2 separate regions of the Homo sapiens genome follow, and region 2 is linked to region 1. A link means that fine-mapping ties the variant in region 1 to the expression of a gene that starts in the linked region. Tissue or cell type: whole blood. Region 1 holds a variant in brackets; the other region holds the start of a gene. All regions are shown on one strand. Distances are between the middles of the regions.

Region 1 (7,832 bases):
ACTCACTCCTGTAATCCCAGCACTTTGGGAGGCTGAGGTGGGTGGATCACAAGGTCAAGAGATCGAGACCATCCTGGCTAACATGGTGAAACCCTGTCTCTACTAAAAATATAAAAATTACTTGGGCATGGTGGTGCGCGCCGGTAATCCCAGGTGCTACACAGGAAGCTGATGCAGGAGAATCGCTTGCACCTGGGAGGTGGAGGTTGCAGTGAGCTGAGATGGCGTCACTGCACTCCAACCTGGCGACAGAGAGAGACTCCATCTCCAAAACAAAACAAAACAAAACAACAACAAAAAACACTGGTTGGCCAGGCACAGTGGCTCATGCATGGAATTCCAGCACTTTGGGAGGCTGAGGTGGGCGGATCACAAGGTCAGGAGTTCGAGACCAGCCTAGCCAATATGGTTAAATCTCGTCTCTACTAAAAATACAACATGAGCCAGGCGTGGTGGCAGATACCTGTAGTCCCAGCTACTCGGGAGGCTGAGGCAGGAGAATCGCTTGAACCCGGGAGGCAGGGGTTGCCGTGAGCCAAGATCGCACCATTGCACTCTAGCCTGGGTGAGACAGCGAGACTCTGTCTCAAAAAAAATAAAATAAAATAAAAAACAATAAAAACCACTGGCTTGTTTTGAGGGATCTGTTCTGAAGCCCATGGGAAGAAGCAAAGGCTCAGTCTTCAAGTAAAAATCAGGTAGCAGGGTTATAAAAATGATTTTTAAAATATACATACGGGCTGGGCATGGTGGCTCATGCCTGTAATCACACTTTGAGAGGCCGAGATGGGTGGATCACCTGAGGTCAGGAGTTCGAGACCAGCCTGGCCAACATGGTGAAACCCCATCTCTACTAAAAATACAAAAATTAGCTGGGCGTGGAGACGCACACCTGTAATCCCAGCTACTCGGGAGGCTGAGGCAGGAGAATGGCTTGAACCTGGGAGACAGAGGTTGCAGTTAGCTGAGATCAGTTGCACCACTGCATTTCAGACTGGGTGACATCGTGAAACTCTGTCTCAAAAAATAAAAAATAGAAAAATAAAATAGACATAAGAACAATTTCCTCTTACTTTGCATCTGCCAGTCCACAGACCATGCTGGCCTCTGTTTTTCTTTTTTTGAGATGGGGTCTTGCTCTGTCACCCAGATTGGAGTGCAGAGGCACAATCACACAGCTCACTCCAGCCTCGACCTCCTGGGCTCAGGCAATCCTGTCTCAGCCTCCCTGGCAGCTGGGACAACAGGCATGCACCACTGCGCCTAGCCACTGTTAGTTTTTAGTTAAGTGTAGAGAGTCCAGCATGGGCCAGGCCTGGTGGCTGATGCCTGTAATCCCAGCATTTTGGGAGGCTTCGGCAGGAGGATCAGTTGAGCCTAGGAGTTTGAGACCAGCCTTGGCAACATAGTGAGACCCTGTCTTTACTAAATAAATAAATATATAAATATATATATATTAGCTGGGCATGGTGGCATGCACCTGTGGTCACAGTTACTCAGGAGGCTGAGGTGGGAGGATCCCTTGAATCCAGGAGTTCCAGGCTGCAGTGAGCTATAATTATACTTCTGTTGTCTATTCTAGGCAACAGGGCAAGACCCTGTCTCTAAAGCAAACAAACAATTTTTTAAAAATGGTGACAATATCCACGCTGACTTAGGGTGACTATAGATTAGGCATAGTTCCGAGTCTCTCCCTCCTTTGACTGTCACTTGTTAGGGAAGAAGTGGTTATTACCTACATTTTACAGGTGAGAAGACTGAGGCCCAGGGCAGGGAAGCCTTAATCTAAGGTCTCAGAGCTGTAGGAAGTGGAGCCGGGGTGACACCAGGACTCCTTTTGGAGGAAGACTCAGGAAAGATGCAGAATACGTGTTTTTTTTTTTTTTTTTTTTTTTTTTTGAAACAGAGTCTTACTCCATCACCCAGGTTGGAGAGCAGTGGCGTGATCTTGGTGATCTTGGCTTACTGCAACCTCTGCCTCCCGGGTTCAAGTGATTCTCTCTTGCCTCAGCCTCCCAAGTAGCTGGGACCACAGGCAGCTAAGTTTTGTATTTTTAGTAGAGATGAAGTCTTGTCATGTTGACCAGGCTGGTCTCGAACTCCTGACCTCAGGTGATTCACCTACCTCGGCCCCCTAAAGTGCTGGGATTACAGGCGTGAGCCACCGAGCCTGGCCCAGAATGCAGTTAATCTAATAACAACACCTACTTCTTCAGCGCTTTCTGCCTGCCGATTCTTTTATATTTAAAGGCTCTTGGCATCTGTCTGCTTTTAAAGCTCAGGGCAACCCTGAAAGGTGAGTTCTGGTGCCTTTCTTTCTTTCTCTCTCTCTCTCTCTCTCTTTCTTTTCTTTCTTTCTTTCGACGGAGTCTCGCCCTGTTGCCCAGGCTAGAGCGCAGTGGCACTATCTCTGCTCACTGCAACCTCCACCTCCCGAGTTCAAGCAATTATCCTGTCTCAGCCTCCTGAGTAGCTGGGACTACAGGCGCCAACCATCATGCCTGGCTAATTTCTGTATTTTTAGTACAGATGGGGTTTCGCCATATTGGCCAGGCTGGTATTGAACTCCTGACCTCAAATGATCCACCTGACTCGGCCTCTCAAACTGCTAGGATTACAGGCGTGAGCCACCGTGCCCAGCCTGGTGCATTGCATTTCTTATTATCCATATTTTCAGTTAAGCAAACTGAGCCTCAGAGTGGAGGAGCTGATTGCTCAAGGTCTGTTTTCCATATGAATCCCTGCCTGGTATGTAGCTCACTCACAAAGGAAGAAAAACTTTCTGCCTGGACTGGAAGGGCAAGGAGAAGCCTGTGTGGCCATGGGAGTGGAGGAAACAGCTAAGCACAAAGGCCCAGAGGCTGGAAACTGCTTAGCCTGTAGGAAGAGCAGCAGGGAGGAACCCCAGGGCTGGAGCAGTGTGATTGAGGGGCAGGTGGCTGGAGAGATGGGCAGGGCCTCCTAGGCATGGGGTGACTGACGCACCAGTGGTCTGCAAAAACGGAGCATCACACCAGTGCGCATGAGCTCTCCTGCCCCTTGGGGGGGCCTTCCTTGCTCCTGCAGCTGAACTCCCTACACAGCCTGACACCCATCTTTCCTCAGGCCAACTTTGGCCTGTGGTGCCCCAGGAGTTGATGTACAGATGCCTCAGGACATGCCATGAGGAAGAGAGAGACGAGATGGGGTGACTCATGCCTGAAATCCCAGCACTTTAGGAGGCCAAGGCAGGAGGATTGCTTGAAGGCTGGGAGTTAGAGACCAGCCTGGCCAACATAGCAAGACCCTGTCTCTACAAAAAGAGAAAGAAACAGAGAGAGAGAGAAGGAAAAGTGTTTTCTTTGCAAATCTATTCTAATACTTTCATAGAGAAGAGTTTTAGTTTGGTGTTAACCTGTCTTTAATAATCCTCTAAGGACCAGCACAGTGGCTCACGCTTATAATCCCAGCACTGTGGGAGGCCAAGGCTGTAGGATCCCTTGAGCTCAGGAGTTCGAGACCATCCTGGGAAAAACGGCAAGACCCTATCTGTACCAAAAAATAAAAATAAAAAATTAGCCAAGTGCAGCGGCGTGCACCTACAGTCCCAGCTACTTGACAGGCTAAGCAGGGGAGGATCGCTTGAGTTCAGGAGTTCAAGGTTGCAGTGAGCTATCATTTACAAAGGTAGATTGAAATATTATTGATAGGCTGGGCACGGTGACTCACACCTGTAATCCCAGCACTTTGGGAGGCTGAGGTGGGCAGATCACCTGAGGTCAGGAGTTTGAGACTAGTTTGGCCAGCATGGCAAAACCCCATCTCTACTAAAAAATACAAAACTTAGCCAGGCGTCGTGGTGTGCACCTGTAATCCCAGATACTTGGAAAGCTGATGCAGAAGAATCGCTTGAAATCAGGAGGCGGAGGTTGCAGTGAGCTGAGATGGTGCCACTGC[A/C]CTCCAGCCTCTGTGACAGAGCAAGACTGTCTCCAAAAAAAGAAAAAAATATATTATTGATAATCGCTGCATTGAAGGCCAGGCGCAGTGGTTTACGCCTACAATCGCAGCACTTTGGGAGCCTGAGGCAGGCGGATCACGAGGTCAGGAGTTCGAGACCAGCCTGACCAATATGATGAAACCTTGTCTCTACTAAAAATACAAAAGTTAGCCGGGCGTGGTGGCATGCACCTGTAATCCCAGCTACTCGGGAGGCTGAGACAGGAGAATCGCTTGAACCCAGGAGGCGGAGGTTGCAGCGAGCCGAGATGGCGCCATTGCACTCCAGTCTGGGCAACAAGAGCGAAACTCCGTCTCAAAAAGATAATCGCTGCATCTTACTGCCCAAGTTGCCACAAGCACACGTAACATCTGATGGTGCCAATTCGACTGTCTGCACTTGGAAAATGGCACATTGGAGGCTGCACAGCACCATAAAACTGATGCCACGAATGCACACAAAAATAAGACCATACAGCATTATGCCTAGTACAGAATACACCCTGAATTCTGTCACAGTTCACTTTATGCAACATTGCAAGAGTCCTCTCGCTCTTTATTATTATTTTTAATTTTTTTGAGATGGGGTCTCACTCTGTGACCAGGCTGGAGTGCAGTGGCCCGATCTTGGCTCACTGCAACCTCCTCCTCCTGGGTTGAAGCGATTCTCCTGCCTCAGGCTCCCCAGTAGCTGGGATTATGGGCGCCTGCCACCACACCCGGCTAATTTTTGTATTTTTAGTAGAGACAGGGTTTCATCATGTTGGCCAGGATGGTCTGATCTCTTGACCTCGTGATCCACCCGCCTTGGCCTCTCAAAGTGGTAGGATTACAGGCGTGAGCTGCCGCGCCCAGCCATTAATTTTTTTTTTAATTTTGTTTTTAACTTTTAGGTTTGGGGGTAAATGTGAAGGTTTGTTAAATAGGTAAACACTTGTCATGGAGGTTTGTTGTACAGATTATTTCATCACCCAGGTATTAAGCCCAGTACTCAATACTTATCTTTTTGTTTTTTGAGATGGAGTCTCAGTCTATCTCCCAGGCTGCGGTGCAGTGGCGTGATCTCGGCTCACTGCAACCTCCGGCTCCTGGGTTCAAGCGATTCTCCTGCTTCAGCCTCCCGAGTAGCTGGGATTACAGGCGCCCGCCACCACGTCCAGCTAATTTTTTTATTTTTAGTAGAGACGCGGTTTCACCATGTTGGCCAGTCTGGTCTCGAACTCCTGACCTCAGGTGATCCGCCGCCTCGGCCTCCCATACCCAAAGTGCTGGGATTACAGGAGTGAGCCATCGCGCCTGGCCCCATTATTAGTGAATTTTAACAGTTTTCCGTTTCTTCTGGACGAACTGTTTGCAATTATAATGCGAATTACGGATAATACTCTGATATTATTCCATGCCGTTCCGTTGTTGCCTACAAAGTTCGCGCTGGAGAACCGCGCAATTGCGTTACAAAAAGAAAAAAATCACACAAAAAGACACAATGTTTTAAGAAAGTTTACGAATCGTGTGCCGGACCGCGGGTTGAACAAGCTTCATCTAAAACTTCCAGGAATCTCTAGACAGGATCATTGCTTCCCCTCTGCTCCAGCTCTGGTTACAGAAAGCTGAGAGTGACTAGGTCTAGGTGTTTGTGTGGGGTGGGGTGGGGAGATGCCTCCTCTATCGGACTCAGAGGACGCGCGCCGGGAACAGCCAGTCGGTGCCTAACGCGAGTGTATCTCGAGAGAGAAGCGATCAACAGCTGCCGGTCTGCGCCTGCGCGCGGCGGGGGCGTGGCCCGGGGCGAGTGGGGCCAAGGAGGCAGCCGGGAGCGGCGGGCGCAGGTGTTACTGGTTGCGTCGGGTCACGTGGGCGCGCAGGCGCAGCGCGGTGCAGCCCGTTCGCTCACACAAAGCCCAGACGCGGAGAAAATGGCGGCAGGGGTCGAAGCGGCGGCGGAGGTGGCGGCGACGGAGATCAAAATGGAGGAAGAGAGCGGCGCGCCCGGCGTGCCGAGCGGCAACGGGGCTCCGGGCCCTAAGGGGTGAGTATCCCACGGTCCTTTGCCACGGGTAAGGGTTCCTCTCCGCGGCCGACGCGGGCGGCGGCTCCGTTAGGTCTGTTGGCGGCCTAGCCCCGGCGCGGCCTCGGCCCCGGCTGTTCCCGTACCGCCTGCTCAGGGTAGCGGCGTCTAGGGCCGTGAGCGGGGAGCCGGGGGAGCCTCCAGAATCGTCCCCTACACCGGGCCTCGAGCCTCGCCACCCTCAGTCCCTCCAGGCCGGGGCCAACCCCGTAGTCGAGGCCTCAGGCCCAGCTGCTGCGCATGGGGGTTGATGGCGCGGGCCCGGACCGGAGAGCCTCCGAGGCCTACCCGACCGCTCCCCGGGAGGGTGACCTCGGGGGCCGGGTTTCAGCCCCCCGTCCCCTCTCCTCCCGGGGTCTGTTTTCTGATCCGTAACGTGGGGGGAGGAGAGAGGGTGCGCGCCCGGGAGGCCTCGCGCGCAGTCAGCCCGAGTCAACGGTAACCGAGCGAGGGAAGCGTCAGGAAGGGCCGCGAAGCCGGGTCGGGGGGCTCCCCTCCTGCCCCGCCCCTTAGTCCCCGCGCGCCGACCGCGCTCCGCGGGAAGTGCCTCCCTCGGAACCGCCCCTCGCCCCACGCTCTGGCCCTGGCTCAAGTCCCTCGCCGTTTCCCGCTCCTCCTCCCCGGGTGCGCCGCAGGTATTAGTGGAGAGATGGGATCTGCTGCTTAGCGTTCACCCTCGGAAGCAGACAGATACGAAGTCGGGGGAGGAATCCCCTTTTTCCCGTGTTTCGGGGAAGCTGTTCTGTCAGGAGGCGGGTTCATTTACTTCCAGACTTCATCAGCTTTTCGAGTCCTGCTTGGGGCTCTTTGACTCCTTGGCTTTTAAAAGTTTCTTTAAAGGAGGAAGCATCGACTTGTGCCCCGGTGAAACTCATTCATTCTGATTACAGACACTTAAGAGAGACAGAGAGGTTTTGGCTCCAAGATCAGCGGCCGGGAAGGAAGGGGAAGCCTGGGTACACATTGAATTTCCCAGACATTTATTTCATTGTGGTAAAATAGACATAACGTAGACTTTGCCATTTTAACCATTTTTTAAGCGTATAATTCAGTGGCATTGAGTATACTGACTCAGTGTGCTGTAACCGTCACTGCTTCATGTCCAGAACTTTTTCATCATCGGAAACAGAAAGTGTAGCTATTAAATACTAACTCCCTCCGTTTTCTTTCCTTTCTGTCTGTGACTTTGCCTTCCTCATATTGTAATGTGTGAAGCTTAGTTTATGGAGATTAAAAGTGAATGCGGTTGAGCACTTATATATTTAATTTTTTTCTTTGAGACAGGGTCTCCCTCTGTTACCCAAGCTGGGATGCAGTGGCACGATCACAGATCACTGCAGCCTCGAACTCCTGGGCTCAATCGATCCTTCCATCTCAGCCTCCTGAGTAGCTGGGATCACAGGCGCGGCACCACCATGCCCGGCTAATTTTTTGAAGAGAGGAGGTCTCCGGGTGTTGCCCAGGCTGGTCTGAAACTCCTGGGTTCAAGCCATCCTCCTGCCTAGGCCTTCCAAAGTGCTGAAGTTACAGGCATGAGCTACTGCGCCCTGCCTAGTTGAGCGCTTAGGTTAAGAACGTTCCCTAAGTGCTAGCTATATTGGTAGATAATAAATCCGGAGAAAATTCCAGATTCTTTCCCTCCTTAAGTAGGGAGAAATAAAATACCATGGTTACTGGCCCTTAGAAATGAGAAAAACTTCCTCTATTCCCAGCATTTTACTATTGAAAACTCTGGGAAGGAATGTGTTAATTTTGACTTTTTCAGCGTCTATCTACGGAAGCTGGTAGGATT
Region 2 (6,908 bases), 59 kb after region 1:
CGCTCCGGCTGCAGCAGCTTCCTGGGGAGTGAGTTGAACTCGGGCTCTGAGGAGGTCCTGGGGAGGCCGCCCAGCTCGGGCTGCGGGGGCTTCTTGGAGAGCGCTTTGAATTCGGCCGGCCGCGGCCTCTTGGGAAGCACGCTGACTTCGGGCTCTGAGGAGGTCCTGGTGAGGTCCCCAAGCTCAGGCTGCGGAGGCTTCTTGGGAAAGTCACTCAGCGGAGGCTGGGAGGCCTTTTTGGGAAAGGCGCTGGAGTCGCGCTTCGGCTCGCTGGACTGAGGCTTCCAGAGGGGAGTCTGAGCGGCCTCGCTGAACTCAGGCTGCGGCACGGACTTCTTAGGGAGGCCACCGACCTGAGGCTGCGGAGGCTTTTTGGGGTACACGTTGAACTCAGGCTGCGCAGGCTTCTTGGGAAAGGTACTCAACTCAGGCTGCGGGGACCTCGGGGTAGCCTCACCGGCCTCGGGTTGCCAGAGCTTCCTGGGGAATGCGCCGGATTTGGGTTCGGAGGGGGGTCTGGCGGGGTGACTGAGTTCGTCGGGCTGCAGGGGTTTCCGGGCCGGCGCACCAGGCTCCGGCAGCGAGGCCTTCAAAGGGGCCTCACCGACCTCAGGCTGCAGGGGCTTCCTTGGAAACGGAGTGGCCCCCAGCTGTGGGAACTTCTTGGAGAGGTCACTCAACTCCAGTTTGGACGGCTTCTTGGGGAGGTCAGTGACCTCAGGCGGCGGGGGCTTCTTGGGGAGGTCAGTGACCTCAGGCGGCGGGGGCTTCTTGGGGAGGTCAGTGACCTCAGGCGGCGGGGGCTTCTTGGGGAGGTCAGTGACCTCAGGCGGCGGGGGCTTCAAGGACACTGCACCAAACTCAGGCAGCGGGGCCTTCTTGGGGTGCTCGCTTAGCTCAGGCTGGGAGAACTTCTTCAGTTTACCAAACTCAGGCTTCGGAGGTTTTTTGGGCAGGTCGCTGGGCTCCGGCTGAGAGGCCTGGAACTTTGCTTTGATGCTCCGGAAGTCCTGATGGCTCTCCTAGGAGACGCAGAGCCAATGAGGCAGGGGCTCAAACACACAGAAGGGGCATGGAAGGATGGGCCTGGGGACCCTCAGGCACAGCCCACAACCACCACCCCTGCGCCCAGGCCCGGTCAGCCCTCAGCTCTTTCCCAGGAGCCCCCATGGATCCTAGGATCCTGGGACCGACACCCCTCCCTACTTCTCCATTTAGTGCTGATTCCACACCCAACCTCCTCTAGCAGCACTGGAGATCCCGACATCCCTCCTGCAGCCTCCAGTCCCACTGCCCTCCCCCCATGGGTGGTACCCCACCCCCCCAGCATCCTTGACCCCCTCATTCTTTCACCCCTCCCACTGCATGTCTCCAGTCTCGTTCCATTGCCCAGGCTGGAGAGCAGTGGTGCAATCATAGCTCACTGCAGCTTGCAACTCCTGGGCTCCAATGATTCCCCCGACCTCGGCCTCCCCAGTAGCTGGGATTACAGGCTTGAGCCGCCGCGCCCAGGCCCCCAGTCCCTTCTGTGCTAATTTCAAAACACATCCGGAATCCAACCACTTCTCACTGCCTTCACCACTGTCACCCCAGGAGGTAGTGGGAGGCAGTGTCTGCCCTCCCCCAACCAATTGCCTGGATTACTCTAACAAGCCCTTCCCTGGGCCTCTGCCTACCCCCTTCCCTGGTCAGTTCCCCCCATGGCAGCTGGAGGGAGAAGCCTGTTGAACCCTGAGTCTGTTTGTGTCCCTCTGCTCAAAACTCGGCAATGCTTCCTCATGTCCCCACAGTTCAAGCTAAATGCCTCATAAAAGCCTGGGCGAACCAGCCTCCCTACCCAGCCACCTTCTCCTCCCTGCACCCTGAACACTTCCCTCCGACCTCGGGGCCTCTGCCCTGTCCCTGACCCAGGACATGTCTCTGCACCACCTGGGTCTCTCCTTTTCCTCCTCCCAGCCTCTGTTCTCATATTTTCTTATTAGAGAGGCCATCCAAGGCCACCCTATTTGTTTATTTTTATTTTTTGAGATGGAGTCTTGCTCTGTCACCCAGACTGGAGTGCAATGGCGCGATCTCGGCTCACTGCAATCTCCACTTCCCAGGTTCAAATGATTCTCGTGCCTCAGCCGCCCAAGTAGCTGGGATTACAGGCACTCGCCACCACACCTGGCTAATTTTTGTATTTTAACTAGAGACAGGGTTTCACCACGTTGGCCAGGCTGGTCTCAAACTCACGACCTCAGGTGATCCACCCTCCACCCGCCTCAGCCTCCCAAAGTGCTGGGATTACAGGTGTGAGCCACCGTGCCCAACCTAGACCACCCTATTTTTCTTTCTTTCTTTTTTTTTTTTTTTTTTGAGACGGAGTCTCACTCTGTCACCCAGGTTGGAATGCAGTGGTGGAATCTCGCCATACTGCAACCTCCGCCTCCTGGGTTCAAGCGATTCTCAGCCTCCTGAGTAGCTGGGATCACAGGTGTCTGCCACGACGCCTGGCTAATTTTTTTTGTATTTTTAATGGAAACAGGGTTTTACCATGTTGGCCAGGCTGGTCTCGAACTCCTGACCTCAAGTGATCCACCCACCTCGGCCTCCCAAAGTGCATGAGCCATCACGCCTGGCCTAGACCACCCTATTTTAAATGGATCACCCCATCCCACTACTGCCCTGCATTCAGCATGCATGATTTTCTCCATCGTACCCACCCCTACGTATTATACTATTTTACATTGTTTTTAATGTGTCTTGATTTTTTTTTTTTTTTTTTTTTGTCTCTCTACACCACAACTTCCCTCAGTTCCTCAGCCTCTGCAAGGCAGAGACTTGGCTCATTCATTGCTGTCTTCCCAGGGCCTGGAACATGGTAGGTGCTCAGTAAATATTTGCTGAAATAAACAATATTCAGGCAGCACAAAGACAGCCATGTACTCAGCCTGACCATCAGGAAAACACAGAGATGCCTGGAGACGGCCATGCGGTCCCTCTCACACCGTCTCTGACATGCGGGCTGATGGTCAGGAATGCTCACAGTTGACAGTGCCTGAGAGGATTGGTGCAGACACCGTGGGCACAGGCGCTGTCTCCTGCATACCCAGCTGTCCCAGCTGCCCTCCTAGCTGGCCCTGCAACCACTCCTCACAGAGGTAGGCAGATTCACAAGAAGGCCAGGCCTCCTTAGTCCTACAAACGCCCCTTTCACCTGTGGTCAAGGAGATTGGGGGAGGGAAAGGGCAGAAACGTGTGGCCTTTGCTTCCTGCGTGTGCCTCACTTTCCCCATCCAGAGGACCAGAGACCAGGATTGCTCCTTGGAAAGGCAGCAATTCCCACCTGGGGCCTGAAGTGCCCCTGTCAAAGCCCCGAGTGGTTTGAAGGAAGTGCTCCCGGGCGACCACAGGGCTAGATAAGTCAGGGTTAGCAGGTCACAACTTGGGTGACTGGACGGGGGAGGGTCATGACCCACTTTGTCACCCCGCAGGAAAGCACTGCTCTCACCCCAGCAGCCCGTTCCCACATGGCTGCTCATGTTGACCTGGGGAGACGGGAGTTGTCCCCCCGGGGAGTCCCATCTGTCCCCCTCGCAGTCCCAACCTGAGCGTGAACCCCCAGGAGCCCGCGCTGTCCTGGGGTGTGCCTGGTGGCCGCCTACCTCGGGTCCTTTTTGCCGACCCTTCCCGTTTCCCAGATGTCTTTCGCAGCCACCCCCCGCCCCCCCGCCCGCCCCTCCACAGGTGGATCCTATCCTTCTGGGAACATCTGTGTCCCTTGCTTCCCAGCCAGTGAGGCACAGGCCTCTTCCAGCACTCACCATGGCTGCAGGCAGGTGATGGGCCATGGGATGAGTGGGACCCGAGCTGGGGCCGCTGCCTTCAGGAAGTGACTGTGGCTTCTGCTCCACGGTCAGCACACAGGGTGGGGGCTGCTAGAGGTGGGGCGGGGGAGGGCAGAGGAGGAAGGGAAGGAGGTGGGGAGGCTCCAGTCCGTCTCCAGATCCTGCCAGCCACTTCTTTTTTTTTGAGACTGAGTCTTGCTCTGTCGCCCAGGCTGGAGTGCCATGGTGCCATCTCGGCTCACTGCAACCTCTGCCTCCCGGGTTCAGGCAATTCTTTTGCATCAACCTCCTGAGTAGCTGGGATTACAGGCGCGCACCACCGCTCCTGGCTACTTTTCGTATCTTTAGTAGAGAAGGGGTTTCACCATGTTGGGCAGGCTGGTCTCAAACTCCTGACCTCAAGGGATCGGTCCGCCTCGGCCTACCAAAGTGCTGGGATTACAGGTGTGAGCCACTGCCCCGGCCCCTGCTGGGCACTTCTATTTCGCTTGAATTCCTGTCCTGCCTGCTACTGTCCCAAGCTTGGGGCACTGGTTGCCCGCATGTTCCTAACATGGTCACTAGTTTCTTTCTTTTTTTTTTTTTTTTTTTTTTTTTTGAGACGGGGTATCACTTTGTTGCCCAGGCTGGAGTGTAGTGGCGCAATCTCGACTCACTGCAACCTCCGCCTCCCAGGTTCAAGCGATTGTCCTGCCTCAGTCTCCTGAGTAGCTGGAATTACATGCATGTGCCACCACTGCCGGCTAATTTTTTGTATTTTTAGTAGAGACGGGGTTTCACCATGTTGGTCAGGCTGGTCTCAAACTCCCAACCTCAGATGATCTGCCCGCCTCGGCCTCCCAAAGTGCTGGGACTACAGGCGTGAGCAACCACGCCTGGCCAACTAGTTTCTTACTCTCTATAGTCCCCATCATTCCTACTACTTTGGTGTCCCCATCTCTGGACTCCAGGGAGGACTCCATGCCAGGCCCTGGTGACCTCCTGGGCTAGAGAGCCACAGGATGGGGAGATCTCAGCAGATCAGGGGTACGGACAGCTCTGGGGTTTAGGAGGCTCCTGGGGAGGCCCAGAGGCCCAGGACGTGGGGGCCCATGTGACCGGGTGAGGCCTCTGCTGTCTGCCCTGGTTGGCTCATCCGCCTTCCTCATTTCAACACTTCCATGAAATCCAATTCCCGGCTCTGAGCAGGACTCACTTGTTCTGGGGCAGATATCACAGGCCATGGATGTCCCAGGCTGCCGCCCTGGGCAGAAAGCTTAGCTGGTACAGCAGATTTGGGGGTCGGTGGGTGAGTGGTGTCAAAGGCCTTGCACCTGGGCCACGCACGGTGGCTCACGCCTGTAATCCTAACACTTTGGGAGGCTGAGGCAGGAGGATCACTTGAGCCCAGGAGTTCAAGACCAGCTTGGGCAATGTAGCAAGACTCCATCTCTACAAAAAATATAAAATTAGCCAGGTGTGATGGTGCACGCCTGTGGTCCCAGCTGCTTGGGAGGCTGGGGTGGGAGAATCACTTGAACCCTGAAGGCGGAGGTTGCAGAGTCAAGATCACGCCACTGTACTCCATGCTGGGTGACAGAGAGAGACTCCATCTCAAAAAAAAAAAAAAAAAAAGGCTTTGCAGTTCTGGAGGAGTGAGGGGGTCTGAGGACCCGAGGACACACCAGATTCCCAGAGGTTAGAGGTAGTAGAGAGAAGAGGAACCAGGAGACAGAGACAGGGGCCAAGAGGGGGTGAAGGCAGTCACTTGTGGTGCCGAGGACTGGCCAGATAAGGACAAGCCCTGACCACAGAGCTCAGCCCACAGGAGATCAGTAATCTCCGTCACGGTAGACAAAGGGAGAAAACACCTGCTAAGAGAGTAGAGAGCCCTGGTTTTCAGTTTGAGCACATGTTGGAATTGCCTGAACAGTTAAAAAAAAAAAAAAAAGAACCGGCGGTTGGGCAGTGTGGCTCACGCCTGTAATCCCAGCACTTTGGGAGGCTGAGTCGGGTGGATCACCTGAGGTTGATCACCTGAGGTTGGGAGTTCAAGACCAGCCTGGGCAACATGGAGAAACCCCATCTCTACTAAAAATACAAAAATTAGCTCGGCGTGGTGGCGCATGCCTGTAATCTTGGCTACTTGGGAGGCTGAGGCAGGAGAATTGCTTGAACCCAGGAGGCGGAGGTTGCAGTGAGACGAGATGGCTCCACTGCACTCCAGTCTGGGTGACAGAGCAAAACTCCATCTAAAAAAAAACAAAACAAAAAACAGAACCTACAAGAAACTCTGACTTAATCAGTCTGGGGTGTGGCCCGAGCAAGTATTTTTAAAACATTTTAAAATTTTTTTTTTGAGACAAAGTCTTGCTCTGTCTCCCAGGCTGCCTCCCGGCTTCAAGTAGCTGGGATTACAGGTGCCTGCCAACATGCCCGGCTAATTTTCTGGATTTTTAGCAGAGCTGGGGTGTCACCATTGGCCAGGCTGGTCTCAAACTCCTGACCTCAAGCAATCTACCCACGTGGGCCTCCCAAAGTGCTGGGATTACAGGCCTTAGTCACTGCGCCTGGCCTGCCTGTTTTCACGCCTCCTTTAAGAGCACAGACATCAGGATTCTGCCATCTCTGTTGTGCCTTTGCATCCTGTCCTGGGGCACAGTTCCCAGATGTGGGTTGCCCTCCCAAAAAGGAGTCTCGGGAGGACAGTATGGGCTCTCTGTGGGTCTCCAGAACCTTGGCAAGTGAAGGAAAGAATGAAAGAAAGAACAAGTGGCCAGGCGCGGTGGCTGACGCCTGTAATCCCAGAAGTTTGGGAGGCCAGGCGGGCGTATCACCTGAGGTCAGGAGTTCGAGAGCAGCCTGGCCAACATGATGAAACCCTGTCTCTACTAAAAATACTGTTTGTGCACACCTGTAATCCCAGGTACCTGGGAGGCTGAGGCGGGAGAATCGCTTGAACCCGGGAGGCGGAGGTTGCAGTGAGCTGAGATTGCGCCATTGCACTCCAACCTGGGTGACAAGGCGAGACACCGTCTCAAAAAAAAAAAAATTAAATTAAATAATAAAAATAAGTAAATAAATAAATCAAGCAATGCT

Evidence for each region. PIP is the estimated chance that this variant, and not a neighbour inherited with it, causes the effect.
Region 2: it holds the start of PRAM1, and the variant in region 1 is fine-mapped to the expression of PRAM1 in whole blood (INTERVAL, PIP above 0.99).

What each region holds. Positions count from the first base shown.
Region 1 is chr19:8,439,111-8,446,942 of GRCh38, forward strand. It overlaps HNRNPM (heterogeneous nuclear ribonucleoprotein M), which reads left to right and starts at 5,865. Exons shown (of 16, transcript NM_005968.5): 1 at 5,865-6,001. The coding sequence starts at 5,889. RefSeq lists silencers at 2,755-3,049, 5,624-5,903, 6,144-6,373. The variant A/C (reference allele first, on the strand shown) is at 3,937.
Region 2 is chr19:8,498,759-8,505,666 of GRCh38, forward strand. PRAM1 (PML-RARA regulated adaptor molecule 1) reads right to left here and starts at 3,882. Exons shown (of 10, transcript NM_032152.5): 1 at 3,807-3,882; 2 at 1-1,022. The coding sequence starts at 3,833. RefSeq lists an enhancer at 1-437.